7 linked regions of the Homo sapiens genome follow. The protein of the gene in region 7 purifies or fractionates together with the protein of the main gene of each other region. This does not show direct contact. Each region holds a gene or a part of one and is shown on either strand. Other genes may lie near its edges. The genes, in order: OBI1, PPP6R1, HERC1, TSEN15, RAP1GDS1, MTR and RAB15.

The links.
Region 1: the proteins of RAB15 (region 7) and OBI1 purify together in Homo sapiens (affinity purification with mass spectrometry; one large-scale study listed by BioGRID and IntAct). This does not show direct contact.
Region 2: the proteins of RAB15 (region 7) and PPP6R1 purify together in Homo sapiens (co-immunoprecipitation; one large-scale study listed by IntAct). This does not show direct contact.
Region 3: the proteins of RAB15 (region 7) and HERC1 purify together in Homo sapiens (affinity purification with mass spectrometry; one large-scale study listed by BioGRID and IntAct). This does not show direct contact.
Region 4: the proteins of RAB15 (region 7) and TSEN15 purify together in Homo sapiens (affinity purification with mass spectrometry; one large-scale study listed by BioGRID and IntAct). This does not show direct contact.
Region 5: the proteins of RAB15 (region 7) and RAP1GDS1 purify together in Homo sapiens (co-immunoprecipitation; 3 studies listed by BioGRID and IntAct, with this or other methods). This does not show direct contact.
Region 6: the proteins of RAB15 (region 7) and MTR purify together in Homo sapiens (co-immunoprecipitation; one large-scale study listed by IntAct). This does not show direct contact.

Annotation. Positions count from the first base shown.
Region 1 is NC_000013.11:78,641,570-78,645,868, reverse strand, and holds part of OBI1 (ORC ubiquitin ligase 1), read left to right. Parts: intron 1-871; coding exon 872-1,007; intron 1,008-2,316; exon of another isoform or gene 2,317-2,843; intron 2,844-3,655; coding exon 3,656-3,747; intron 3,748-4,299. UniProt on the Homo sapiens protein: E3 ubiquitin ligase essential for DNA replication origin activation during S phase.
Region 2 is NC_000019.10:55,231,626-55,235,293, reverse strand, and holds part of PPP6R1 (serine/threonine-protein phosphatase 6 regulatory subunit 1), read left to right. Parts: intron 1-3,082; coding exon 3,083-3,219; intron 3,220-3,311; coding exon 3,312-3,492; intron 3,493-3,625; coding exon 3,626-3,668. UniProt on the Homo sapiens protein: Regulatory subunit of protein phosphatase 6 (PP6). May function as a scaffolding PP6 subunit. Involved in the PP6-mediated dephosphorylation of NFKBIE opposing its degradation in response to TNF-alpha.
Region 3 is NC_000015.10:63,634,473-63,638,771, forward strand, and holds part of HERC1 (probable E3 ubiquitin-protein ligase HERC1), read right to left. Parts: coding exon 4,239-4,299; intron 4,065-4,238; coding exon 3,939-4,064; intron 3,172-3,938; coding exon 3,033-3,171; intron 1,671-3,032; coding exon 1,489-1,670; intron 417-1,488; coding exon 261-416; intron 1-260. UniProt on the Homo sapiens protein: Involved in membrane trafficking via some guanine nucleotide exchange factor (GEF) activity and its ability to bind clathrin. Acts as a GEF for Arf and Rab, by exchanging bound GDP for free GTP.
Region 4 is NC_000001.11:184,054,174-184,058,472, forward strand, and holds part of TSEN15 (tRNA-splicing endonuclease subunit Sen15), read left to right. Parts: intron 1-180; coding exon 181-262; intron 263-554; coding exon 555-690; intron 691-3,987; exon of another isoform or gene 3,988-4,067; intron 4,068-4,299. UniProt on the Homo sapiens protein: Non-catalytic subunit of the tRNA-splicing endonuclease complex, a complex responsible for identification and cleavage of the splice sites in pre-tRNA. It cleaves pre-tRNA at the 5' and 3' splice sites to release the intron.
Region 5 is NC_000004.12:98,421,695-98,425,993, forward strand, and holds part of RAP1GDS1 (rap1 GTPase-GDP dissociation stimulator 1), read left to right. Parts: intron 1-4,299. UniProt on the Homo sapiens protein: Acts as a GEF (guanine nucleotide exchange factor) for the Rho family of small GTP-binding proteins (G proteins) that stimulates the dissociation of GDP to enable subsequent binding of GTP.
Region 6 is NC_000001.11:236,846,786-236,851,084, forward strand, and holds part of MTR (methionine synthase), read left to right. Parts: intron 1-3,558; coding exon 3,559-3,738; intron 3,739-4,299. UniProt on the Homo sapiens protein: Catalyzes the transfer of a methyl group from methylcob(III)alamin (MeCbl) to homocysteine, yielding enzyme-bound cob(I)alamin and methionine in the cytosol. MeCbl is an active form of cobalamin (vitamin B12) used as a cofactor for methionine biosynthesis.
Region 7 is NC_000014.9:64,947,788-64,952,086, reverse strand, and holds part of RAB15 (ras-related protein Rab-15), read left to right. Parts: intron 1-423; coding exon 424-484; intron 485-935; coding exon 936-1,013; coding exon of another isoform or gene 1,014-1,144; intron 1,145-1,672; coding exon 1,673-1,762; intron 1,763-3,353; coding exon 3,354-3,419; intron 3,420-3,574; coding exon 3,575-3,733; 3' UTR 3,734-4,299. UniProt on the Homo sapiens protein: The small GTPases Rab are key regulators of intracellular membrane trafficking, from the formation of transport vesicles to their fusion with membranes.

The sequences.
Region 1 (4,299 bases), on a different chromosome or scaffold from region 7:
AGACCAGCCTGACCAATGTGGTGAAACCCCGTCTCTCCTAAAAATAGAAAAATGAGCTGGCGTGGTGGCAGGCGCCTGTAGTCCCAGCTACTCGGGAGGCTGAGACAGGAGAATTGCTTGAACCCAGGAGGCAGAGGTTGCAGTGAGCCTAGATGGTGCCACTGTACTCCAGCCTGGGTAACAGAGCGAGACTCCGTCTCAAAAAAAAATGCTATAAATGTAAGGTATTATTATTTGTGCTTGTTTAAATGGAGCCTGGAGTCAAAGATTTGTGTATTTGGTGTATCTCAGTAATTCTGTCTGCATTGTTTGCTGTTTAGATTATAAACTACTTGAGAGTGAAGCTCATGCCTTTTGGGTTGTTTTAGCTTTCATTACTGTTTGGTTTTGGGGAATTTCTAGTAAAGTATCAATACAATATTTAATAGTTGCTGTTATTCTGTAACAGTGGAATGAATTGAGAAAAGGATTCGGGCATCAGATGGATGATTGTGCTAAATGATATTTTCAAAAACCTAATCCTGCTGTTCTATAATGCTAAAATAGAAGAGTTTGAGCAAAATTGTCCCAGCCTTAGTGGAACAAAAAGCATTTTCTTTTTGGCATGAATTCTGTGGTTTAGGTACAAAATAAAGCATTTTATATGTCAAAAGCTTCAGTCTCCATGATCCAGTATCTCATCTAGTATCTCTGTTAAACATGTGTAAAAAGAAAAGTGACCAACAGAAGCAGTGTTTTTAAAAGCGCTAGATATCCCTTCTTAAACTCCTACTCTGCTATAATCTAGAGAAGCAGTTTGCTGTAAACTAAACCATTTGATCTTCTAATTATGACCGTTGTCCTGTACTAAAAGTGATTTCTTTTTTCAAAGGTACGTCAGCCTGTCATATGCATCAACAACCATGTATTTTGTTCGATTTGTATTGATTTGTGGTTGAAGAATAATAGCCAGTGTCCAGCTTGCAGAGTCCCCATCACTCCTGAAAATCCTTGCAAAGAAATTATAGGTAAGGGCCTGTTTTATATATGCATAGGAATAGGTTTGAAACAATCTCCAAATAATTTATATTTCGAGGAAGACTGAAATAGGCTATTTTCAGTGATGCTATTTGGCCAACATAATACTGAGTGGTTGAGTAATTTGTGTAATGTATATGTGGAGCAACTGGGGCACAAGGCACTGAGAGGTGCTAAGAGGAATAACCCTGAGAGCCTCACGGAACTTACATTTTCATAGCAACTGAACCAAAAGAAAAGCAGCAAGTGCTAAGGGCCCCAAAAAAGCCCAGAGAGTTCAGGCAAGAAACTTCAGCTAAGAACACCGAGAAGGGCTTCATAAAGTAGGTGGCCTTTAAGCTGGACATTTAAATTTAAGGATGGATAACATTTCAACGGTGAAAATTAAGGAGGGCATTTCCTGCAGGGAGAATAGCATGAACTAAAAAGTTTAGATACAGGAAAACCCAGAGCATGTTTTTAGAAATGATCAGTAGTCTACTTTGGGTCCGACTACTGAGATAAGACAAAAGGTAAATTGAGACTTTAGTGCAGAGAACCTTGAATGACAGCTAAATCAGGGACTTGCTCTAGGACTAAGAAGAAGGGTGAATTGGGCATGATGGTTTTGAGCAAGGGAGTGGTATGATCCAAAATGTGCTTTACAAATATTACTTGTGGTAATACATAGGTTGGACTATAGGAGTAGACAGGATGTGAGTAGGTCTGGTAGGAGGCTTTTGCCTAGGTGATAGAAAATGTAAGTTTGGATTAAGGGTGAAAACAAATTCTATGTCACATTAATATTGGTGGGGTGGGGGAGGAGTAAAGCTTGAACTAGAGGATCCTTGAAAAGGAGAACTTCTAAAGAGCCTTTTTAGAGTTTGGTTTTTATTCTACTCATATAAGTTATTTATTTTAGGTTGCAAAAATTAAAATGATTTCTACTTGTTTTTGCTATAGGAAAAATTGAAAGTGAATCTACAATTAGCCAAGTATAGAAAACATTTTTCAGAAAACTTAAGAAGTCATTGTAATAGTCCCAAGTTAGGGAAAATGGACTTAAATAAGATTTTTTTTTTTTGAGACAGAGTTTCGCTCTTGTTACCCAGGCTGGAGTGCAGTGGCGCGTTCTCGGCTCACCGCAACCTCTGCCTCCTGGGTTCAAGCGATTCTCCTCCCTCAGCCTCCTAAGTAGCTGGGATTATATGCATGCATCACCACGCCCGGCTAATTTTGTATTTTTATTAGAGACGGGGTTTCTCCATGTTGGTCAGGCTGGTCTCGAACTCCCGACCTCAGGTGATCTGCCCGCCTTGGCCTCCCAAAGTGCTGGGAATTACAGGCGTGAGCCACCGTGCCCAGCCAAGATTTTTACAAAGGAAATAGAAAGGAATATATATGCTACAGAGCAAAAGAAGAACTAGTAGGACTTAGGAAATAAGAGATCTGAAGGCGCAATCAGAGTTGGCTCTTGGTACCTGGGTGAAGTCTGGTAGAGGACTGGTTCTCTGCTGTGTTGCATGCTACGGGGTTAACCTCTATCTGTTTTTTTTTACCTGCTGAATTTCACCAAGGAGTCAAGTCTTTTCTTGCAGAATATGAGCTTTGATGATTTGAATATTTTCCCCCAGCTTTTCTTCTCATCCCATATCCTACCTTTATTCATTCATACCTAAGTGATATTTCATAAATTCTCTCAAGGAAAATAGTTCATCCATTTTTGCATTTGGATAGAACATCCTGAAAAAGAACACCTGTAAAATACCTTTGCTATTATTATAATGCTAAAAAATACAAAGAAGGTAACCAGAGCATCAGTGAAGAGCTCTCAGGAAGAATTCATTGTGAGTGCATTTGTAACAAGTCATGACATAGAGTTAATGCCATGACTTACAGTCCATTGTAACTAGCCTGTTAGAATCCGTGAAAAGACACATTAATCTATATACATAGGTATATAGCAGTAATACTTTTTTTTTTTTTGAGACGGAGTCTCGCTTTGTCGCCCAGGCTGGAGTGCAGTGGCGCAATCTCGGCTCACTGCAAGCTCCGCCTCCCGGGTTCATGCCATTCTCCTGCCTTAGCCTCCTGAGTAGCTGGGACTACAGGCGCCAGCCACCACGCCCGGCTAATTTTGTTTGTTTGCATTTTTAGTAGAGACAGGGTTTCACTGTAGCCAGGATGGTCTCTATCTCCTGGCCTCGTGATCCGCCCGCCTCGGCCTCCCAAAGTGCTGGGATTACAGGCGTGAGCCACTGCACCCAGCCAGTAATACATTTTTATATAATCTCTTGGTTAAATGTAAATGTAATAATTGGTTTTATTATTTAAATATAGTCTAGTTTTCAGAATTTGAAGTAGTCCAAATGTGATAATTACAGCCCTTTCCTCCACTGAGTTTGCTGTGATAAGATATGTAGATATGTAAATACAATATGATGTGTTACTGAAGGTATTTCTTATGGTGTTATTTGATATATTTTTTTTTCCTCAAGATTAGGGTAGAGAAAAGGCCTAGATGTAAGCCCCAAGTGTGTATGTAAGGGGAAGGGTAGATGTGAAGCTGGGAAGCTATATAAAACAATATGAAAAAGGATCATTTTCATTCTTCCCGAATCAGAATGAAAAATTAGGATTTTTTTTTTTTTCCCTACAGGAGGAACAAGTGAAAGTGAACCTATGCTAAGCCATACGGTCAGGAAGCATCTTCGGAAAACTAGACTTGAATTACTACACAAAGAATATGAGGTAAACAGTAATCAAAGTTTAAAATTATGTTAGCAGTGAATTCAAGGTAAAAACTGACCTACCTCAGTCCCCAGACTTCTTAGAGTAAATATCCAATGAAATTTTATTTTAAAAGCCTATAAAAAGAAATTGTTTGATAAATTCTTTTTTCTTTTTTCCTTTCGTATTTTAAATAGAGGAAAGAGATTTTTTGTTTTATTTTTTTTCTTTAAGTACCAAGGAATGGGGGAATGGGATTCCAGAAAAAAGGAACAGATGGAAGCATTTCTTTCTTTTTTTTTTTTTTTTAAGTTAAAATTTGTACCTCCACAGACATATCATTTTGTATTTGCTTCCTCAAGAAGTTGGGAGAAAAAGGAAATCTCCTTGTGAAAGCCAGTCTGACCTCTGCAGTCATCAGTTGCTTCTGCCTATGAAGTTACTGATGATTATAAGCCTGATCAATTCTAGTAAAGTAAATACTATACCTTATGTCAACTGCCAGCACAGAGATTTTAGTGTGAAACATGCTGTTTCCTAATTATTGTCTAAAGGTGAATGAACAGGATGATT
Region 2 (3,668 bases), on a different chromosome or scaffold from region 7:
AGTAAAATGAGAGATGATGACGTCCCTCTCCAATCAGGCTGTGATGACATTTTAGTGCAAATGTTACATTGTTTTTTTTTTTTCTCTTAATACTGGCCGGCCCCAGAGTCGCTGTGATGAAATGGGTTCATGCCATGTAGATTTGACAGCCTGAACACTAAGTCATCATCTGCAACTGAGTTTTTGACTCATGACTTTTGATTTCGGAATTAGGCTGTTTTCACTTTTTATTGACATGTAACATGCGTATAGACAAGTGTACATACAGATCCTGAGTGTGTGGCCAATGGATATCCTTCCTCAGTGCCCAGACCCAGGAGCAGGACCTTCCCAGTACCCACATCCCCTCTGTTAGCCAGTATCCTCCCTTCTGAGGGTAAAGTTGTCCTGGCTTCTAACCCTGTAGATGAGTTTTGTCTCTGTTTTCACTTGATATAGCATACAGCATCTCCTTTTATGTCTGACCTCTGTTGCTCAACACTCTGCTTGTGAGCTCCTTCCCTGTTGTGTGTTTGGGTGCCCCTGGCTCTCGTGCAGTGGGGCAGTGCCATGCATGATGAGCTGCAGCTGAATTGCTTGTTCTGCAGTTGACAGGCCTTTGGGCAGGTTCCTGTTGCTCGCTGCTGTGAGTGCAGCCGCTGTGAGTGCGGCCGCTGTGAATACCCTTGCACGTGTTGTTGGTGCACAAGTGTGTCACTGCCAAATCCAGCATCTTGACTTAGCCCTCTCTTTTCTTCTAAGAGTTTTATAGCATTATTTCTATGGTTTTCCATTCATTTTGAGCTAAATTTTGTATATGATGTGAGGTGGTCCACCTTCATCCCTTTACATATAGATAACCAGTTTTCCCTGCACCAGTTGTTGAAGACACTGTCCTTTCTCCACTGAATCATCTTGGCACCTGTGTAAAAAGGAAATATTTGACCATATGTATGAGTTTGTTTCTTCCCTCTCTGTTCTGTTCTATCAGTCTGTGTGTTGTTTTTATCCAGTACCACACTGGCCTGGTTGCTGTTGCTTTATAGTAAGTTTTGAAAATGGGAGGTTTGTTGGGCACGGTGGCTCACACCTGTAATCCCAGCACTTTGGGAGGCCAAGGTGGATGGATCACCTGAGGTCAGGAGTTTGAGACCAGCCTGGCCAACATGGTGAAACCCCATCTCTACTAAAAATACAAAAATTAGCCGGCTGTGGTGGGTGCCTGTAATCCCAGCTACTCAGGAGGCTGAGGCAGGAATATCGCTTGAACCTGGCAGGCAGAGGTTGCAGTGAGCTGAGATCGCACCATTCATTGCACTCCAGTCTGGGTGACAAGAACGAAACTCCATCTCACAGAAAAAAGAAAATGGGAGGTTTTAGTTTTCCAACCTTGTTCTTCTTTTTAAAGATTGTTTTGCCCTATTTGGGATTTCTTGAGATTCCATATGAATTTTAGGATCAGCTTGTCAATTTCAACCAAGAAGCCACCTTGCGTCTTCTAATACGTGAACATGGATGTCTTTTTATATAGGTCTTAAAATTTCTTTCAACAATGTTTCGTAGGTTTTAGAGTATGAGGCTTTGTATTTCTTTTAAGTTTATTCCTGTTTTCTTCTTTCTGTTACTATTGTAAATGGAATTTTCTTGAAATTGTTTTCAGATTGTTACAAGTATATGAAAATACAATAGGTTTTTGTATGTTGATCTTTCATCCTGCAACCTTGCTGAACTAATGTATGAGTTCTGATAGTTTTAGTGGACTCCTTAGGATTTTCTATGTACAGAATCATGTCATGTGAATAGAGTTCATTTTCCTTCCTTTCAAATCTGGATGATTTTAATTTCCTTTTCTTGCCTGGTTGCCCTGGCTAGCCTCCGGGACAATGTTGAACAGAAGTGGCAAGAACAGGCATCCTTGTTTTGTTCCTGATCTTAGGGGGAAGCATTCAGCGTTTTGCCATGTAAGCATGCTGTTAGTTGTGGGGTTTTGTAGATGCCTTATGTTAGGTTGAGGGGCTTCCTTTATACTCCTTAGTCGTTGAGTATTTTAGTTTACTTTTAACTATATACAGATATATTACTTTCCAGTTAAAGTAGTCAGTTACTCTGTTAAGACAAAAATATTGGGTCAGCATTTTAGACATAGTATATAGTCCCATACTGCATCTTTGGGTCAGCGATGGACCACATATGACAGTGGTCCCGTGAGATTATAATCCTCTATTTTTGCTGTATTTTTCCTATGTTTAGATACACAAACATTTACCATTGTTAGAATTGCCTGTAGTATTCAGTACTGTAACATGCTGTATAGGTCGGTAGTCTAGGAACAATAGGCTATACCACAGAGCCTAGGTGTACAGGAGGCGCCACCATCCAGGTGTGTGTAAGTGCACTCTAGAATGTTCACACAATAGCAAAATCGCCTAATGATGGCGTTTTTCAGAGTGCACCCTCGTTGTTAAAGCTTAGTTTTAGTGTTACTTTGCTTACCCCTTCCCCGGTTGATCAGCACGTAGGTTGCTTGGATTTTCTTCATGCTCACAGGTGTGTGTTAGTCAACATTCAGCCAGTGTTTTTGGAGCAGCTATGGGTGCCTGGTGGTTTCTCAGGGCTGAGGATACAGCAGTGGCAAAACTCAGCCATCTCTGCCTTCTTGGAGTTTCTAGTTGGAGGGAGAGAGTAGTGTGAAGCCTCTGTCCAGAGGGTGGGCCTGCTGGTGGGAAGGCCTGTCACTGTGGTGACCGTGTGAGGTGACGGCTGGGAGGTGGCTTGAGAGCTGGTGAGTGGGTCTGTCTGCTCTGGTTGCCATGGCTGAGGCTCAGCCCACTTCCCCAGGGCCTGCCCTCCACGGATGACTGGCGACGGACGGTCTCCTTACGGCCGCATTCTGTCCCTGCCCGCCTGTGTTCTTGCCGTTGGCTCAGAACTCCCTCTCCCAGCCTCTCCTGGTGTCGTCACACCCCAGGCTCCCTGGACCCTTCTGTGACCTGCCTGTCATCCCAGCCCGCTCTCCTTGGGCTGACCCTGGGCTGCAGGGAACAGGATGGGTGTCGGCCGGTCTGTCCCACACAGCTAGCTGACGAGGTGGTTTCTGGGGCAGGAGTGGAGGCAGCACAGACAGTGAGGACGAAGAAGAGGAGGACGAGGAGGAGGAGGAAGACGAGGAGGGCATTGGCTGTGCAGCCCGTGGAGGGGCCACCCCTCTGTCCTACCCCAGCCCTGGCCCTCAGCCTCCAGGTGAATGAATGGGCGGTGTGGTCAGGTGTACACAGGGCTGTCTGCCTGCTACTGAGTTCACCCTCCATCCCGCTCCCCCACCTCTATCCCAGGCCCCAGCTGGACAGCCACCTTTGACCCAGTGCCTACAGATGCCCCGACCAGCCCCCGAGTCTCCGGGGAGGAAGAGCTGCACACTGGGCCTCCAGCCCCACAGGGGCCCCTCAGTGTGCCCCAGGGCCTCCCCACTCAGAGCCTGGCCAGCCCTCCTGCCCGTGACGCCCTGCAGCTCAGGTGAGAACCGGATGGAACGGGCTAAATGGTGCTGGTATCCCGAGGCCAGGAGGTGGCCATGGGGTCCCCGTCCTCTCATAGGCTCGAGTGCTAACCCTAGCTGCCCCCTTGGGCTGCCTCTCTCGCCTACCAGGTCTCAGGACCCCACACCCCCCTCAGCACCTCAGGAAGCCACA
Region 3 (4,299 bases), on a different chromosome or scaffold from region 7:
TGTTATGGAGGGGGCTTTAAAAATATTCACGTCCTGAAATAAGGGTTACATTTGTTGGTTTGTCACATAAACAAACTTAAATTGACTTAAAATATGAATTTCACATTGGGAAACAGTTAAAATTATCAATTAGACCATAGCAAAATGTACATGAGGTTAGGTACAACTGGTGATCCTGATCTTCCTGAGGGTGTCTAAGCGAACACAGAAGAAATGAGAAACAATGATCAGCTAGAATATCTTATTGATTTATTCCATGCCTGTCCAATCTGATATCCCTCCAGTGCAGTCACTCTCTCTGGAAGTTTTTTGTTAGAGGTATTTCCAAGACCCAGACGACCATAGTCACCATTCCCAAAGGTGAACAGTTTGCCATCTGAAGTGACCACTGCTGAGTGCTTGAAGCCACAAGACATCTAAGACAGAACCAAGGAGAAAGAAAATTTTTAAGAAGGGAAACTAAGAAAAAAGTAAATCTGCCATTTTTGGTATTAATATAGCAATAAACTTTACATAAACTTCACTGAAAACTGGATCTTCAAAGACCAATGCTTTTAAAAATTTTTTTTTTTAATTTTTTTTTAAATTTTAAAGAGACAGTGTCTTGCTCTGTCACCTAGGCTGGAGTGCAGTGGTGTGATCACAGCTCACTGCAGCCCCAAACTCCTGGGCTCAAGCAATCCTCCCACCTCAGCCTCCCAAGTAGCTGGGACTACAGGCATGTGCTACCACACCTGGCTATTTATTTCTATTTTTTGTAGAGACAGGGTCTTGCTATGTTGTCTAGGCTGGTCTCAAACTCCTGGCCTCAAGCAATCCTCTTGCCTTGGCCTCCCAAAGTGTTAGGATTACAGGCATAAGCCACTGCATCTGGCCAACTGGTACATTTATCTGCCCAAGTTGCTCTCCTGCTCTCCCAAGTCTGATCTGTCTCAACAGCCTCAGGAAGCCCAAGCTGAACAGCATACCCTGGAGTAACTACTGCTACTCTTCAGCTGTGTACACATGACCTAGACTAAATGAGATAATAAATGGGGAAATTGTTTGTAAACTATAAGGTGCTATACAATCTTACAATATGATTTTAGAACACTATTTTCCAGAAAATGCATGTTAACTTAGCTTTTGTAACATAAATGATAGGTTAAAAGCAAAGTTTTCCTTTTATCTGTGTATTAAGAACTGTGTGGCAGAAGTTAAACCACACAATATTCCTTCCAAGGGCGTGCAGCACCCTAGTCTGGGCCAACCAGCTGGCTCACGAAAAAGACCATTCTAACCAATACTAACAAGACCAATACTAACACCAAAGCCTATTCAAACTTCTGACAAGCTCAAGAATGAATCTGAACATCCAAAACCAATGGATCTCTTATAATTACTGTGTAATATATTTTTACTATATTTTCTGTTACCTAATTTTAAGAAACCTATTCAACAACTAGTATATTTACAATGAAAGGCAAACTTATCCATTTCCTGCCTGACCTGCACCACTTCTTCTCCTTGTAAGGCCTCGATCTGCCTGGGCCGCCGCTGCCTGTCGCTGTTCCCATGGCCAAGTTTACCATAGTCACCATCTCCCCAGCTAAAGACCTCACCACTTTCAGTTAGGGCCATAGAGTGCCCATCAGAACCACAGGAAGTCACCAGCTGGGTCACCACAAAGCCTGGAACAGAACAGAAACCCAACAGGAGTCACTGGATGTTAAAACTCTCCTCTTTACTTGCAGCTGCTACTGAATACCCTCAATCAAAAACCACCGAATTGGTACTATGAAAATAAGAATAATTTCATTAGTTTTTTTTTTTTTTTTAGATGGAGTCTCACTCTGTCATCCAGGCTGGAGTGCAGTGGTGTGATCTCGGCTCACTGCAACCTCCACCTCCCCGGTTCAAGTGATTCTCTTGCCTCAGCCTCCTGAGTAGCTGGGATTACAGGCATGTGCCACCATATCTGGCTAATTTTTGTATTTTTAACAGAGACAGGGTTTTACCATGCTGGCCAGGCTGGTCATGAACTCCTGACCTCAAGTGATCCGCCCACCTCGGCCTCCCAAAGCGCTGGGTTTACAGGCATGAGCCACAGTAACCGGCCTAATTTCTTTAGTTTTAAATTGAATTTGTAGCCATAACCTAGCAAAACTGCGAATAGTCACCTAAAATAATGGTGATGACAAGGAAAACGAGGATGACAGCAATAGTTACAGTCATTAATGACTGGCTATGCTCTAGCCACTCCTATAAATGCTTTACATGGATTATCTCATTTTCTACTTTCACATAGCACCTATGAAACAGATACTAACATCCCATTTTTACAAGTGGGAAAACTGAGTCACAAAGAGGTCTCGAAGCTTGTGCAATGTCCCAGAGCCAAGGACCAGTAGAACCCATAGGAACCCAGCACACATTCTCATCTTTACTGCTGTGCTCTTCACACTCAGATCACAATGAAAAGAACCTGAGCTTCTAGGAACTTGTTTTGAACTCATAGTTACTTGTATGCTTTTACCTAAAAAAACCGTCGGTGCTCTCTTTGTAGGCTTCAGAGTCATTATGAGTTCAGTTAATGAGCAAGCCGGGGGCTTGTACAGTGGTTTCTCCAAAGGTGTTCTCTCTCCAAGTCACAAAGAACTCTGATGAAGATGTCCTTTAAAGTCTTTAGCACATTTGCAGATTTCCATATAAACTGATTTTTAATTTTAATGAAATACATGCATGATTGCTACTGCTATTAACATCTGCCTACTTACACTTTTGCAATTTTTAAGCATTTGTTTACAATCTTCAGTGGGTCTCAAAAAGTGTTATTTATATTTCACTGAATTCTAGCATTGCTATAAGTAACCTGCAATATAGCTTAAAATATGGAAATTAAGGCTGCACACATGCCTAAATAAGGATTTAAATGTAAGTGAAAACCTGATATGATTTTATCTAGCAAAGGTTTGAGAAGGGCAAAGGTTTGTACGACCAAACCTACATTAGGCCTTAGGTTCTAACCATCTTTTTATTAAGGACAATTTTACCTTGTAAGGCTGAAATAACTGTCAGCACATGAAGGTCATCTGAATTTCCTTGTCCTAATCTGCCATAACTTCCTTCCCCACAAGCCAACACTGTGCCATTGGCCTGGATGACAAAGGTACAATTCTGACCACAAATGACCTAGTATAAAAACACAGAATTAAATATTTTATTCTTTATTATATTGCTTTAACATGCAAGCACTTGAAATGATTCCACGTATACATAGAATGCTTTTATAATTGTTTTATCCTTTTACTGAAAGGGAAGAGTTGATATAACTATGCAGTCCCGTAACTCCTTGATGACTATAAAACTGCTTATTTAACCAAGAGATGTATGAGATTCATCCATTTAAAATAGTTTAGAACAACAAAATGGATGAAAGAAAAAGGAAGGGGTGATGGGGAAACATTAAAGACTGGGCTAGAAAGAAGCAGAAACTCGTACATAAGAATGAGTCATGCAATCTGGACTAGCTGAGGTAAAGAAGAGCAAAAGAGAAAGCAGAGGCCTCGAGAAGGGTTTGGCGCTATATCGTACCAGGATTATTAGAAAAGGGGAGTGGTCGATAAAATCTGGCTAAAGATCCTAGGAAGTTTTTAGCCCCAAAGAGAAAATCACTAATTAGGAGTATCTAAACTGCTAGAAATACATACTGGGCAGGCCTAACACATCATGATGTTAGTTCATTAAACTTGAAAGAAAAATTTAGAAATTTGTTAACTTCTTAAGTCTGATAAAAACCACACCAAGTTTTTATTTGAAAGCTATATATCATGACTTTCTTTAATGATTCCTCATAATAGATTATGAAATGGACAAGCTTTATCCCACAATAAGACAAGCAAAAGAATTAGAATTTTCAGTTCCCATGTTTCTTTTCTATTTTTTATCCTGTTAGTTACCTGTTGGGCCTGTGAGAATGAGGGAGCTGCTGCAGGTACCATTACATTTCTTCCAGCTTCTGCCAGCTGTCCATGCCTACCAGCACCCCATAAGTAGACATCACATTTACCTCCCAGGTGCCAGTCCTAGAAAACCACAATCATCTCAAAATTAGAGTCATCCATTCACTCAAACAGCCATGTACTACGTACCAAGTGTGTGCCAGCCTGTATGGGAGACACCAGGGCACAAACACACAAGCATTTAGAATCAAAACATTGACTGAGAACCATCATACAGTTATCTTCATCTTTACTGACCTCAGGTCTGGAAGTTGCCCAAGACATAATTTGTTCATCCATGCCGTTAATCCATTTACTG
Region 4 (4,299 bases), on a different chromosome or scaffold from region 7:
CATGTATTTAACAATTGCAAGTTCTTTAGAGACAGAGATAAGATCTTATATTGCCTTTTAACTTCCACTATACCTAGAAGAATTTTATAGATTATATATGCTTGATGACCACTTGATGATTGGAAGAAAATATTAAATAATTTTTTCTTCTCAATTTGACAATTATATTTTAATTTTCAGTATCTAGAAATGATGGAATTAGATATAGGAGATGCCACCCAAGTTTATGTAGCGTTCTTGGTTTACCTGGACCTCATGGAAAGTAAGTTGTTTGTTTATATTGTTTTGTTATTGGGACTGTGGTAGAGATTTGGGGGGTTGGATTGGGATATAGCATTCTTAACATAATAAGCAATCTTTTATGCATTTGCTGTTAATTTTGCAATTTATTTATTTACATTGGGAATTACTGAGTAACAGAAGCTACTAGAAAAGCAAAGACAGGAGGTAGTGTTACGAGTGATATTTGCTCAGCTGAGTATTAGGTAGAAGTTTGGAGTTTTTATTTTTTGTATTTAATAAACATTATTGTCCATTCAATGATGCTCTTTCAGGCAAAAGCTGGCATGAAGTAAACTGTGTAGGATTACCAGAACTCCAGCTCATCTGCCTTGTTGGTACTGAGATAGAAGGGGAGGGGTTACAGACTGTGGTGCCTACCCCCATCACTGCTTCCCTCAGCCATAACAGGTGAGCAGGTGATTTTGGTCTAAGTTCCTTTCCCGAGTAAAGCAGTAGGAAACATTAAACATAGTGATGTAATACTTTTAATGAAATTTGGGATACAGGGTTCATAGCTTTACTCTTGGCTATTTGAGGAATAAGTTAAATATGAGTGTTGTATTCGGCCATTCTTGCATTGCTATAAAGAAATACCTGAGACTGAGTAATTTCTTAAAAAAAAAAGAAGAGGTTTAAGTGGCTCATAGTTCTGAAGGCTTTACAGTAAGCATGGTGCTGGCATCTACTCGGCTTCTAGGGAGGCCTCAGGAAGCTTATAATCATGGAGGAAGTTCGTGAAGCAAGAGCAGGCACATCATATGGCAAAAGCAGGAGTGAGAGAGAGTGTTGAGGGGGAGGTTCCACACACTTTTAAATGACCAGATCTCACGAGAACTCATTGTCCTGAAGACAGCACTCAGCCATGAAGGATTTACCCCTATAACCCAAACATCTCCCACCAGGCCCCACCTCCAACATTGGGGATTACAGTTCAACATGGGATTTGGGCAGGAACAAATATACAAAGTATATCAAGCATTCAACAAGTATTTATTTAGCACTTACTCTATGGTCAGTACTTTTTCAGAGACAGTATGTATGGTAGAAATATTTATATTCTTGGTAAGGAAGCAAGACCATTACATATGAAATAACAGCTGTTATAAGATGTACCATGTAATACAAATTATACTTTATATAGCAGTTGGTGAAAAGCATGATTAACATGCAAGCTGAAATCAAATTTTCATGTAGCTTTTTTTAAAAGCTTTAAAAAAGAGACTTTTTTTAGGACCTTTTTTTAAAAAGCTTAGGTACACAGCATTGGATTAAACATGTCTTTGTTTCATGACATACTCTCATTATTAGTTCATGCTTGGTTTTTATTTATTTACTTAGTTATTTTTAATAATGTAATAAGTATCTCTGTACCCATCACCCAAAGCAAAACTAGATTCTTGATAATAACTAACATCTAATCTTATAAGTCCCTTCCTTAACGTGCTTTCACTGACCTGAGGTAACTCATTCTGAATTCCATGTACATTGGGAATTTTTAAATTTTAGATGTTTTTAACTTTAATTAAAAAATCTTATCTTTTAAGGCTGACCTTATACACTTAATATTATATTACTAAAATTCATCCATTCTTGTGCATTTTTTGAGCTGCCACATAACATTCCATTGTGTGATTATACCACCATTTTTACATCCACTCCCTCGATGATGGAGTGTTGCTAATGTTTAACTTTAGGAGATAATTTCAAACTATTTTCAAAGTGGTTGCCTCAATTTACTTTTCACCTGCAGTGTAAATAAGATCCTTTGGAGCTGTATTGTCTCTCACATTTAGTATTGTCAGACTTTTAAATTTTTGCCAATGGAATGGATTATTCTTATTTTGGTCTTAATTTACATTTCCCTTATTACTCATAATACTGAATATTTCTTTATATATGTATTATTTATAAGAAATATCTGTTCATATCTTTTGCCTGTTGGGTTGTTTTTAGTTTTCTCATTGACTTGTATGAATTCTTTATATATTCTTGACCTAATAGTTTTTTTATTGTGTTTTCCAGTTTTTAAGTCTGTCTTTCACTGTCTTAAGATGTCTTTCAATGAGTAACAGTTCTTAATTTGAATATAATCATATTTATCCATCTTTTATAATCAACGTCTTTGTGTCTAGTTTAAGAAATATTTTCTATCTAACGGTCTAAAAAATACTTATATTTTCACTAAGAGTTCTATTGTTCTTGTTTTTAATGGTGTGAGAGGCGGTTAGGGATACCATTGTCATGTGGATAACCACTTTTTCTACCTCCATTTACTGAATAGTCCCTCCTTTCCTCACTATCTGACATATCACTTCTGCTACTTTCCAAAGTTCCAAACATGCATTAATTTGTTTCTGGGTTCTCTATTATATTCCATTAGCCAGTTTATCTGTCCTTTTGCCAATACCATATCTCTTAATCGCTTGCTTGGTAAGAAGTCTTGGTATCTGGTTAGCAAGCCTCCCTTATGCATTTCTTCTTTAGAAGCTGTAGCAGGCAGCTTCTAAGATGGCTTCTCCTAATTCTGGTATTCACTCCCTTATGTAACTCTCTTCCCTTGAGTGTGACCTGGACTCAGTGACTTCTTTCTAATGAATAAAATTTGGCAAAAATGATAGGAATGTAACTTCTAAGATTAGGTTACAAAAGACTGTGGCTTCTATCTTGGGCACTCTCTCTTGCTTACTATAAAGGAAGCCAGCTGCCACGTGAGCTGTCCTACAGAAAGTCTGAAAATAGAAAAGAGATGACAATTATTGATGGAGCAAGATTCTTGAGAGATGAGGAAGGATGGATTCAAGAGGATAGTGGAGGAGAGTAATATTGAGCATGTAAAGGGGTGCTGTAAACCTCTGAGAGTGGGGTATGGGAAGAATGAACAAATGAAAACACAGCTCTATTTGGGTGGCATATAAGTAGGGAAAAGAGCAGAGCCTCTTAAATTCCAGCATGAATACCGTTGATGAATACTTAACATTTTTTCTAGCTGACTATGACTGAATACATAGCAGTCTAGTAGAAAGAGCCCCAGACTATAAAGTCTTAAGACCTGGGTTCTAGTCTTGGGACTGACACTTAACATTTTGTTTGATGTTTAGCAACACACCTAATTTCTCTGGGTTTCAGTTTCCTCGTCTTATTTTGTTGTTGAGGGATTTAGATTACCAGTACATGCAAGATCCCTTCTAAATTAAAGCTGCTGTAACTGGTTATTTTCATTGTGCATATTTCATAAAGCCATATTAAACTAAATTTGCAGATTTCTATGAAGTATTTTTTGTATTTATTATTCATAATGAGAATTGTTTTTTAATATGTCAGTCTATTCATATGCTTCTTTGAGAAGCTCCTTACTGTTTTCTCTGTGTTTGAGAATTACAAATAGTTGTTAGCATTGACATCAGATTTAATCGCTAGTACTTTCCGGTTTTTACTAGCATGATTTCCAAGCCATCCTATATCCAAGAGTCTTAATTCATTCCTCAGAACTCATTACTTCTGTCTTTTAATTACTGTAACAAATATTGTCCTAGCTAGTATTAATGTTATATTATTTGTTTGGACAAGGAGCTACTATTTGAAATTAACCTGCATTTATTCCTAAAAAATAAAATTAATGAAAGCAATAGCCTATTTTAATCAAAATCATTTCATAAGTCTAGAAGTACAAATTTGTTTCCATTGTTAATTTCTAGTATTTTCCAGGTGGTAATTAATGCTTTTCTAGCTTGAATGGCTAAAGCTTGTTTTCTTCTTCAAGTAGAATTAGTTGGAATGATAACTTGGTAAGCCATTTTGATGCTGTTGCATTTAATAACTGAGAGAGCTTAAATCTTTATGTCTTGTTTTTATATAAATATTCTTAACTATATTATACAGTAGAATACTAATATAGAATGTAGCACAAATGAGGCCTGATACATACTAGATTTATATGCCTTTTAGTGCATAACATTTTCTCAACTCAAACTATGCAAATAACTTTTTAACAAATGGAAATGTGTGGGTGTATATGTG
Region 5 (4,299 bases), on a different chromosome or scaffold from region 7:
AAATGGTACCTAGATAGTATATGATGTCCAGAGCTCACAGAGTTAGAAAAAAATCCATTCTTGTGGCTGGCTGTGCCGCTGTCTGGCACATGGTAGATAACCAATAAATGAACAAATGAGCTATTTTAAAGATCACAATAGTGAGTACCCAGGCCAGCAGTTCAGCAGCTGATTTAGTATCTAGATTATATGATTTTTAAATTTTTTAAATACTGTTTTCTTGTTGGGCGTGGTGGCTGACACCTGTAATCCCAGCACTTTGGGAGACTGAGGTGGGCAGATCATGAGGTCAGGAGATCAAGACCATCCTGGATAACATAGTGAAACCCCGGGTCTACTAAAAATACAAAAAAAAATTAGCTGGGCGTGGTGGCGGGCACCTGTAGTCCCAGCTACTCGGGAGGCTGAGGCAGGAGAATGGCGTGAACCCGGGAGGCGGAGCTTGCAGAGAGCCGAGATTGCACCACTGCACTCCAGCCTGGGTGACAGAGCAAGACTCCGTCTCAAAATAAAATAAAATACTGTTTTCTTTTTCTTTTTTGAGACTGAGTCTTGCTCTCTCGCTCAGGCTGGAGTACAGTGGCACAATCTCAGCTCATTGCAACCTCCACCTCCTGGGTTCAAGCAATTCTCCTGCCTCAGCCTCCAGAGTAGCTGGGATTACAGGCAGGCGCCACCACACTCGGCTAATTTTTGTATTTTTAGTAGAGATGGGGTTTCACCATGTTGGCCAGGCTGGCCTCAAACTCCTGACCTCATGATCCTCCCACCTTGGCCTCCCAAAGTGCTGGGATTACAGGCATGAGCCACCATGCCCAGCCTTTAATACTGTTTTCTAAGGTGACCCTTTCAGTCATTTCTCTTGTACAACTTCAGTAGTGATTATATATGAGGAGAAAGTTTAGAACTCAAATCCACCAGCTGTTTTCATTTATTTTTAGAACAGATAAGAAGAAGATGCCAAGAGAAAAAACGTAAAACTAAAGCTGTTCTTGTATAAATCTCTTTCATATAAATAATTGGCTTCACCATAATAGCTGTCCCAGCTGGTAAGCCTCAGGAGTGTTCTTCTCCATCAGATGCTAAATCTTGAGAACTTTCCCTGGGGAAAAGCAGCTGTTAACTAGGACCTTCCTATTACCTGTCTCACCCAGACCACCCTAAAAGCTCATACATTTTTCCTGACACAGGACCAAGCAGTATGTTGGCAAGGTGGAAGTTGTCAGGAGAGAATAGCAAAATGGCTTCCTTGGTACCCCTTTGACCCCTTCTCCATCATAACTGCTCTCTCACGCCCATTTGTTCATTTAACAGTTAATATTTGAGTTCTTGCAGTGTAAATACTAAAAAATAGTGTTTCTATAAAGGAATTAACTATCCGTTGAGGGGACAGAAATAAAAACAGCTAGCTTAAGTACAGCTTTAAAGCTACGTATGCTATTCGGGTGTAACAGAGGAAAGAAAGACTAACACACTGTCTGGGTAATCTGGGATGGTGCCATAGAAGGAGTGCTATTTTAGGCGTTAACTAGGAATCTCAGGAGGAAAGGGAAAGAGAATGAAGGAAAGGGCCTTTTCAGGCAAAGACAGCAGGATGTACAAAAGCACAGAGATGTAAAACAGCATAATTTTTTAAAGAAACTGCAAATAAAGCAGTATTGCTAGAACACAGAGTGTAGAAAGAGACAGTAGCCAGAGAGGTTGAAAACTGGGAATTAAGTGAATTATATACCAAGTTAAGATATATGGACTTGATTCTGTAGAGAATTCGGGAGCACTTAAAGGGTTTTAAGCAGCAAGTTGCCATTATTTGAGGGTTTTTTTGTTTTCTTTATTTTTTGTTTTTTTGTTTTTTCGGGGTTTTTTTGAGACAGAGTTTCGCTCTTGTTGCCCGGGCTGGAATGCAATGGTGCGATCTCCACTCACTGTAACCTCCGCCTCCCGGGATCAAGTGATTCTCCTGCCTCAGCCTCCTGAGTAGCTAGGATCACAGGCGTGCACCACCATGCCCGGCTAATTTTGTATTTTTAGTAGAGACGGGGTTTCTCCATTTTGGTCAGGCTGGTCTCAAACTGCCGACCTCAGGTGATCCGCCTACCTCGGCCTCCCAAAGTGTTGGGATTACAAGCGTGAGCCACCACACCCAGCCATTTAGTTTTCATTTAGAAAGATGTCTCTAGGGTTTAATGGGGGTAGAAAGGACAGTTATTGCAAAAATATATATGAGAGTTGATAAAGGACTGAATTAAGGTTTTGAGTTGAGCAATTTGAAATTGCTGATATTCAGCCATTTTTGAAACAAATTTCATATGGGTTATTCAACTAGAAGCAGCGAGGATGGAAAAGAAGAGACAGACCTGAGAAAAATATGGGTGGTAGAATTGACAGATTCAACAGTAGAATTAAAGGAGGAGGTAGTTTTAGAGCTAATTCCAAGTTTGGGGTTTACCACCAGATTGGGTTATCATGCCATTCAACAAAATAAAACACTATAGGAAGAGGTGCAGCTAACACTCCCTAAACTTGCCCACTCGCCCATGCTCTTTGGAGTCATTACCCTTAATCTTTTTGCTCTACTCCAAGAGAATCTCCACCATTGGTTTGCAGGGGTATACAATCATTTGGATTTCCCTGGGCCATATTGGAAAACGAATTGTCTTGGGCCACACATAAAATGCACTAACACTAACAATAGCTGATGAGCTTAAAAAAACAAAAATCACAAAAAAAACTCAAACACCTGTGGCATTTGAAGAAGAAGAGAAATCTAAAAGTTTAGAAAACCAGCTGAGTGCGGTGGCTCACGCCTGTAATCCCAGTACTTTGGGAGGCCAAGGTAGGTGGATCATTGTGGTCAGGAGTTCCAGACCAGCCTGGCCAACATGGTGAAACCCCATCTCTACTAAAAATGCAAAAATTAGCCAGGCATGGTGGCGTGCGCCTGTAATCCCAGCTACTGGGGAGGCTGAGGCAGGAGAATTGCTTGAACCTGGGAAGCGGAGGTTGCAGTGAGCCAAGATCGTGCCACTGCACTCCATCCTGGGTGACAGAGCAAGACTCCCAAGACTCTGTCTCCAAAAAAAAAAAAAAAACAAAGAAAACTTTTGGAAAACATATTTGGGAGAATAATCAAGGAAGACTTCTCCAGTCTTGCTAGAGACCTAGACGTCCAAATACAAGAAGCTCAAAGAATACCTGGGAAATTCATTGCAAAAAGATCATTGCCTAGGCATATTGTCATCAGGTTATCTAAAGTTAAGACAAAGGAAAGAATCTTCAGAGCTGTGAAGCAAAAGCACGAGGTAACCTATAAAGGAAAACCTATCAACTTAACAGTGGATTTCTCAGCAGAACCCCTACAAGCTAGAAAGGATTGGGGCCCTATCTTCAGTCTCCTTAAAGAAAGCAATTATCAGCCAAGAATTCTGTATCCAGTGAAACTAAGCTTCATAAATGAAGGAAAGATACAGTGTGTTTCAGACAAACAAATACTGAGAGAATTCACCACTACCAAGCCAGCACTACAAGAGCTGCCAAAAGGAGCCCTAAATCTTAAATCCTGGAAACACATCAAAACAGAACCTCTTTAAAGAATAAATCTCACAGGACCTACAAAACAAAAATACAATTAAAAAAAAAGTGGGGGGTATACAGGCAACAGATAGCATGATGAATGGAATAGTACCTCACATCTCAATACTAAGATTGAATGTAAATGGCCTAAATGTTCCACTAAAAGATACAGAATTGCAGAATAGATAAGAATTCATTAACTATCTGCTGCCTTTAAGAGACTTACCCAACACATAAGGACTCACTTAAGGTAGAGGGGTGGAAAAAGACATTCTATGTAAATGGATACCAAAAGTCAGCAGGAATAGCTATCTTGTATCAGGCAAAACAAACTTTAAAGAAACAGCAGTTCAAAAAGACAGAGGGACATTATATAATGATAAAAGGCCTTGTCCAACAGGAAAATATCACAATCCTGAATATATATGCACCAAACACTGGAGCTTCCAAATTTATAAAACAATTGCCAATAGACCTAAGAAACAAGATAGACAGTAACACAATAGTGGGAGACTTCAATACTCCACTGACAGCATTAAAGAGGTTATCAAGACAGAAAGTCAACAAAGAAACAATGGATTTAAACTATACCCTAGAACAAATGGACTTAACAGATATTTACAGAACATTCTACCCAAAACTGCAAAATATACATTCTATTCATTAGCAAATGGAACTTTTCTCCAAGATAGACCATATAATAGACCACAAAACAAGCCTCAATAA
Region 6 (4,299 bases), on a different chromosome or scaffold from region 7:
GGAAACTTCCTTTTCTTCAGTGTTTCCCTTCCTACTTGTCAGTGTCTCTCTTGAAAGGCACAAACATCCGTTTCCATCACTTCTGTTTTTTTTGTTTTTGTTTTTGTTTTTGTTTTTTTGAGATCAAGTCTCACTCTGTCGTGCAGGCTGAAGTGCGGTGGCGTGATCTCAGCTCACTGCAACCTCCGCTTCCCGGGTTCAAGCAATTCTCCTGACTCAGCCTCCCAAGTAGCTGGGACTACAGGCCTTTGCCACCACAACTGGCTAATTTTTGTATTTTTAGTAGAGATGGGTTTTCACCATGTTGGCCAGGCTGTTCTCGAACTCCTGACCTCAGGTGATCCACCTGCCTCAGCCTCCCAAAGTGCTGGGATTACAGATGTGAGCCATTGTACTGGGCCGGGCCACTTCTTTTTTTAATTACAGCCCCAGGATGGGCCTCTGCTTCCTCCAGGGTTCTCTCGCCCATCTTCAACTACTTCAGTTCGATTTTAAAACTTTAACTCACCTCTGAAGTTAGCCCTGTTCGATCTCTGCTCCTTGTCAGACTACATTAAAGAATCTAGATGTCTTCTACACATTGTCCTTCTCTTCCTCACAGTGTCTGCCTTGATGACCAAATCAAAAATTGTTTTATTGCATTACTGCCTGAGTGTGTGATATTTTAGCAGAATCTGAGCCATGAGCTTCTTAAGTAAAGCCTTCTACTCACTGGTCACAGTCTAGCTTCTCTATGGCTTAAGAGTAAACCTGTTTGATAAAGCTATAAATGGCATTTATTCCTTCCTTCTTGCTGCTTAGAATCTCACTGAGTTTTTCTTCTACTCCAACTGAAGAAGGTGCCACATCTCACCTGTTGGTGGTTCTCACCTGGCTTTATATTAGCATCACTAAGGGGCTTTTACAAAACACTTGCTGAGACCCCATCTCCAGATTCTGATTTAACTGGTTCAGGGTGAGGTGTTACTATTATAAAAAACAAGCAAACAGAAATCCCTCCAGGGTATTGTAATGTGCAACCAGAGTTGAAAGCCCTTCCTGATGGAGTAAAGCTGCCATTCCGTTGTTTTACTGAACTTCTATTCTGGATCTCTGAAATCCACCAGCACGATTGAGGCTTTATTAGTGTGTCTGTCCCACAGCCCTGGTGAGGAGTAAGACAGAAGCTTGGTGAACCTTACGTGATATGAGATATGACCTGCTCCTGACAAAGGCCTGTACACCAATGCCGTGTTCACTCTGAGAGTCATTGTTTAATCAAGTGACAGAGGTTGAGTATCTGTTAATGTGGCACAGATACTGTGCTAGACGCCATGAGAACAATTTGACAAGGGCTTCATCCTTATGGAGGTTAGAGTTGATGACTCTGTTTTGGTTCTAGAAATGAATTCCTGTCCTGTGAGGATGCACCTGCTTGTCCCACAAGCAGGGCTGTCTTTGGTATACAGCTGGGCCCTACACCCTACTCTCCTGTGGGTAACATACTGTTCACTTCAACCTGCCCTGCTTGGCCAGATAATATTCATGGCTCAGATGAGGAATGACCAGGACCTTGACTTCTTCATCTACCAACCAGACTAGGTTACTCAGTAATACTAGTAGCATTGGTCGCCCCTGTGCCTTCTCTCTTAGTGAGCTTAGATGAGCCATGAACCTAGAGCCTAGAACTCTATTGGGCTGTCTGGTGAAGGGTAGACTTTAAAAGTTCAAGCCTAAAGGCAGCTGCAAATGGGCTGTTTCTGACCAGTTTTTTCTGACATACATCTCAGTCTCAACCTTAACCTTTTCACTCTAACTGAAGGCAGAGGAAGTAAGCATTGAGAAAATTCCATTAAGGAAGACGAAAGCTCGCCACCTTCCCTAAAGCCTGGGTGCAGTGAGGCCACAGAGACCACTTCCTGTCTCCCTTTCCCTGGGCCATTTTGTCTGCTAAGTCCTGGAGGCACTTCCCTCCCAAGTAGAGGTGAAGTCTCACCCCACCAGCTGCAGAGAGCGATTAAAGAGACCAAAGAAAACAGTTGAAAAAGAATACCAAAGTAGTAAGTGATCAAAAGGCTAGATCTAAGAGAGAGTTCTTTTCATAATTCCCCTACTCCTCATTTCTGTTGTCTAGGGCCTCACTAGATGCACTTGACCTATGTCCGTGTCCCTACCCCCTCATCTCCACAGAAGTCTGCAATATAGATTGCAGTAGGGTTGGCCATTTTTCAAGAACATTTTTCGCGTTCATTGAGAATTGACCTTCAGAATTGTGACTTATTTTTTCTTATCTCTGGAGTGATAGCAAGTAATCATTTTTTAAGAGTAGATTTGATTTTTCATACAACCAGAAATAATTCAGGATGTAATTTGGTGAATACCCTGTGTTGAGGTTGTAAATTTGATCTGAAGACAGTTTCCATGACAAAGTTCAGAAATACTTTGAGTAAAAGCAGCATTCATACATAATGTTGAGCACCTACTTTGACAGGCACTGCTCAGGGCACTGGGGATAAAGCAAGACTGGCATTCTATCTAGGGGAGAGGAGTTTACCAATTAACAAGTAATAAAACAACGAAAAATACTAAAGATGTTGCCAAAATAATACAATTTCTGGAAAGAAATACTCCGAAGAAGAATGGAGGAGGTGGGGAAGGGTGGAAGTGGCTGGTTTAGAGAGGGTGATTTAAGGTAGGCTCTGAAAAGGGGGCACTTGGGCAGAAGCCTTAGTTCTGTGAAGCACAAAGCCATGTCATGGTATGTTCTGGTAGTGGCAGCAATAAATGAAAGTTGCTGAGGGAGGAACAAGCTTGACGGGTTTCAAAAACACCAAAGGAGCAATGTAGGAGGTGCGGAGTAGAGGAGAGGGCAAATGGTAGGAGATGAGATTGGAGATGGAGGCTGAGATTCTGAGGCTTTTGGGAAGCAGCTGGGGGATGAGCCTTGCCGGAGTTAGTGTTTTGCCTTTTAGGGACATTATTTTGAAGGTAAAGACTAATTTGTATTTATGACTTAAGACACATGTTAGGCCAGTGTTAAAATGGGTGAAGGTGAGGAATAAATGCATATCCTTGAATATGCTTAGAATGTTTTTGCAAGAAGATCTGAGAAAGCAATGGCAGTGTTTCCTGGGTGATAGGTTGTGACACTGCTGTCAGGTCAAGAGAGGAAGGGGCACTTACATGTTAATCTCTTCTTTAGTAGTATTTGATTTTTTATCATATGCATGTATTTTTAGAAGCTTTTTCATAATATACCATATGTGTGTATATGTTTAAGGTTTGATTTTTTGCAGAAAGAGTATAGCTGCTGTGTTTGTGAAAACACAAAGAGATCTTTAAACCAGTCTCTCCTCTGAGATAATTTGATAAGTGATCGGAAGCTGCTTGGCATTTAGATTTCTGTGAAATCCAAGCATTGACACTTGAGTGTTTTCAGTGAGTGAAATGTGCTCTAATGTATAACACTTAATATTTTAATATTAATATTTTATTAAAATAAAATAACAGGTATTTAATATTAATATTTTAATAGATAATTTTTCTATTTCAAACTACATCTTTTGCTCTTTTCCCTAGGCAACAGAAACAGACACAAAAATCAGAGTGTGCACCCGGGCCTACCATCTGCTTGTGAAAAAACTGGGCTTTAATCCAAATGACATTATTTTTGACCCTAATATCCTAACCATTGGGACTGGAATGGAGGAACACAACTTGTATGCCATTAATTTTATCCATGCAACAAAAGTCATTAAAGTAAGTGTAGGCATGTTCTCTCCCAAGTCATGGCTCAAATTTGTCCCATGGGTCTAATGAATGGTTAGAACTAACTTATATATTTATTGGCTGATGAAATGTTAACATTCTTAGTTAGTAAATTGTTTTTCTGAAATGTAGGAGACCTTATTTTTTTTCTTTAGTAGAGTTTTAACTTGTGTAACAAACAGACTGGAGAACATAACAGAGCCTGATGAACTCGCTTGAACCCAGGAGGGTGGAGGTTGCATTGAGCTGGGATCACGCCAGTGCGCTCTAGCCTGGGCGACAGAGTGAGGCCCTGCCTTGAACAAAATGATGCAAAACAAAAAAACCACAGAACCTGATAAATAATTAATTATGAAGCATATAAGAGCCTTCACTTAGGTCCCAAAATAGAGCATAGCTAGCGCCCCCGTCTGTCTCTCCTTTTCCAGTTACACCTCATTCTCAATTTTATAAAGTAGCTATTGTCCTGAGTTTTATGACGCTACTCTGTTGCTTTTCTTCATAAATTTATTGCTTATATATGTAGATTTGATTTGCATCATCTATGGATTT
Region 7 (4,299 bases):
GGTCTTGGAAGCACTGCCTTTGCCAGGGTTTAGAGCTCCCTCTCAATTCCACAGCAGTATGGGCACTGCCTTCAGAGGTCCCATAGGGACTAGGGGTGTAGCAGCATCCCCTGCCAACTCCCATCCAACCAAATCTGGCCACAGTGGCCAGATTCCAGAGAGCTGTCCAAGGCCTGTTCTGGCTGTGGCTTCTGGTTTCTGCCAGGAGGGCAGTTGGCAGGAGGGGCCAAGGCCCTGCAGGCCTGGTCAGCACCAGCACAGATGACCAGGCCTCTGACTGCAGATCCCTGTGGGGATCCAAGCATCCCTGGTTTTTCACCCTTTAGCTCCCCAGTTTTTCCTACAAGGGGACAGCTCTGCTCTTCCCCTCCCCGTCTGTTCCCATGGTCCCTGCTCCTCTGAGGGACTGGCTTTCTCCTGCAGGGACACTGCAGGGCAGGAGAGATACCAGACCATCACAAAGCAGTACTATCGGCGGGCCCAGGTAAGCCACCACATTGGGGGTTTCAAAGTGGGAAGCTGCCACCCACACTCCCAGCTCTGGGTATTTGAGATGTCTGTGCCACGGATCCCCTAAATACAGTTCGCCTGCTTGGAGGAGCGCAGGGCGTCTTTCAGCTGTTCACTGATCATTTGTCCGTCCATTGTTCATGGCCCACTCACTGCAGGCAGGCCCCTGCCCTCACCCCTGACTTCCACCCTCCATCCTGGGTCAAAGATCCAGGTCAAAGCATGTGGTGTCTTCCTGCTGTAGAGAGTTCTGTGATGGGCCTGGGAGGCGGCAGTGGTGGGGTCTGAGAGAAGAGATATTTCTGGATGCTGAGCAGGGAGAATGGGAGAGTGGGACCCAACCTTTAAGTTTCCACGGCCCCTTCTGGCCCCATGACTGCACTCTCTCTGTGCATATCACATCTCTCTATTTCTCTCTCTCTCAGGGGATATTTTTGGTCTATGACATTAGCAGCGAGCGCTCTTACCAGCACATCATGAAGTGGGTCAGTGACGTGGATGAGGTAGGAGATGCCACCTCACTGCCGGGGTGTGGAGAGGGTGCCTCACCGGGGAAGGCAAGGCGAGGGCCAGATGGGAAGGCAAATGCTTCCAGGAAGCTTTGCCTTCCACAGCCCTGGATGAAGACCTCTGGGTGAGTAAGACATGGGGAAGAAACCGAAGCTGCCATGCCCTCACTCTCTATACCCTGCCAGGCCTCCACGGCTGTGTCTTTCCCGGAAATGAATTAGTTCCAAGTCTTCCCTGTGAGCAGCTTCTTTCCTGAAATCTTGGGACCAGGTGGAGTTGCAAGATTGGGATCTAGTCCTGGCTCTGCACAATAGCTGTGGAGCCTTGGGAAGCCATTTGAATCCTCTGGGTCCCCAGTTCCTGTAGAATGAGGGCTGGACTTACATCCAATGTCCTTTCCAGCTCTGATACCAGTGGTCTAACCCAAGGAAGCACCAGTCTTAGCCAGAGTGTCTTCTACCCTAAGCTCTCCCCGTGATACCCTTGAGGTCAGCCATGGCACTTGGGGGAGCCTGGCACCTGCATCCAGTCGGCCCACCCTGTCCCTAGGGCTCTGGAATTGGTGGTGGGCTGGAGGCAGTGCAGACTCTGTAGGGAAAATTGGGGGGGCAGGCAGCACTCACTGGCTGTTCTGCCCATCCTTTGTCCCTAGTACGCACCAGAAGGCGTCCAGAAGATCCTTATTGGGAATAAGGCTGATGAGGAGCAGAAACGGCAGGTGGGAAGAGAGCAAGGGCAGCAGGTAAGTGGAGGGAAAAGGCAAGTCCACCCCAGGTCCTCTGCTGGGCCTCCAGGGCCAGTCCTGAGCGTGGGGACCTAGGGGTGTGTTCCCCAGTGGCAGGTCCTCCCACACGTCCCCAGCACCCCAAGGCCCTGGGGGAGTGGCCATCCTCGGAAGGCTTGTTGTCTGGGTTTCAGGACAGAAGCCCAGAGATTCGGGGTCCATCCAGAAACAAAGACGTCATAGGCAGCAACTCTCCCAAGTCCAGGTCCCCAAATGCAGGATTGCCCTCTGCTTAAGAGATCATCCCCGTGTTAGTAATGAAGGACTTCAAGTTGTCAACCTCTTCTCTGACAGCATCCAGGCCTAGCTGCCATGTTACGGTCGAGAAATGATCTCCCATCCCACCCAACACTCCCCCACTCCTGTCCTTCTTACCCAGGAAAGAGCCAGGGAGGCAAATGAGGAGACAAAGAGCCACAGCTGGAGAAGCCATGGGGGCAGAAAGGGTAGGAGGATGACGCTGAGGGAATGTCCAAGCATGCAGGGAGACCATCCTCCCAGAGAGCAGAAAGAAATATTGGTTATTTTTTTTTTCTTTCTTTCTTTTTTTTTTTTTTTTTGAGATGGAGTCTCGCTCTGTCACCCAGGCTAGAGTGCAGTGGCGCCATCTCGGCTCACTGCAACCTCTGCCTCCTGAGTTCAAGCAATTCTTCTGCCTCAGCCTCCCAAGTAGCTGAGATTACAGGTGCATGCCACCACGCCTGGCTAATTTTTTTGTATTTTTAGTAGAGATGGGGTTTTGCCATATTGGCCAGGCCGGTCTCGAACTCCTAACCTCAGGTGATCCACCTGCCTCAGTCTCCCAAAGTGCTGGGATTACAGGCGTGAGCCACTGTGCCCAGCCAAGATTGGTATTTCTGAGATAAGTTATCCACTCAGTCCGTGGACCTCAAGAGTTTTCCTCTCCCTTTTCAGTCAATAGCGTTCCATTAGTACTTAAAATGAAATTGATTGTTTGGTATAAAATATAAGACATGGTCATTGACCAATTTGAAAGTAGAGGCAAAGCCTACTAGGATAGTATTTATTGAGCACTCTATGTGTGGCACTGTGCTAAGGCAAGCGCTTTTAAGTGCACGACCCCACTGAATCATCCCACAACCATGGATGGGAGACACACTCAGTCTCCTTTAACAGAAGATAAAGCTGGGGCTTACAGAGAATGTACAACTTGTCCAAGGTCACACAGCTAGCCATCAGTGGCAGTGCTGCTATTCAGGTCTGGGACTGTGGGACTCCAGAGCCCATGTTTTTTACGAGGATGCCATACTGCCACAATGGATGGTGTCTTTATCTCCTGATATATGATTGTGTGTTGGGAGGCGTGGGGTGGCAGCTGGAAGAATGGAGAGGCATATTTGTGGAGGATCTTCCCCCATTCTCTGCTACCCTCTCTTGGAGCTCCCAGTCCCATCTGAGAAATTATCTACTCTGAGAAATCGTCACAACACAGCATGGTTGTGAGTGCAGTGGCAGAAGCCTGTGCCTGGTTGTATGGGCCCCTCCCCTGCCTTACTGACTCTCTTTCAGAAATGTCCTTCTCTTGCAGCTGGCGAAGGAGTATGGCATGGACTTCTATGAAACAAGTGCCTGCACCAACCTCAACATTAAAGAGGTGAGAGCCCTGGTGACCAGGCGCCCGCTCTCTCGGGCTGAGTCCAGCAGAGGTGGGAGGAGGAGCCATAAGATGGACCTTATCCCTCAGGCCGCTGCAGGGTTGCCAGGGGAGAGGAGGAGACACTGGACTAACCTGTGCCCTTTGGTTTCCAGTCATTCACGCGTCTGACAGAGCTGGTGCTGCAGGCCCATAGGAAGGAGCTGGAAGGCCTCCGGATGCGTGCCAGCAATGAGTTGGCACTGGCAGAGCTGGAGGAGGAGGAGGGCAAACCCGAGGGCCCAGCGAACTCTTCGAAAACCTGCTGGTGCTGAGTCCTGTGTGGGGCACCCCACACGACACCCCTCTTCCCTCAGGAGGCCCGTGGGCAGACAGGGGAGCCGGGGCTTTGCCCTGCTGCTGTCCTCTCGTGTGATGACCCTATTGAGTATCAGTAGCCACTACTCCCCCTGCCTGGCCCTGAGAGCGGCTCTGCTGTCATCTCAAGCAGCCCCTGTCCCCAGCCCGTCCACCCTGGAGTGGTCTTCTTCAGCCTGTTTCCCCAGCCACAGGCCTGCTACGACCCCCACGATGTGCCGCAAGCACTGTCTCACCATCCCGCACCCACCAGACAACAGCCAGGGCTGGAGTCCAGGCCACTTTCAGCTGCTCCTTTCTCCGTGCATCGTGTCTCTTCTCTGCTTTTTCTCTCTTCCCCCACTTCTCTTTCTCTGACCCCTCCCCTCCGGTGCGTTTCGTATCAAAGCTCCTCAAACCCCGTCCCCCGTGTGTCCTGCTGTGTGCAGCTCGCTCTTTCCTTCCTTCCTAAGCTATCCAAGGGGATGGACCCAGGCTCGTGGGGAGGTTCCACCCTTGGATCCAGGAAGAACCCTCCACCCTG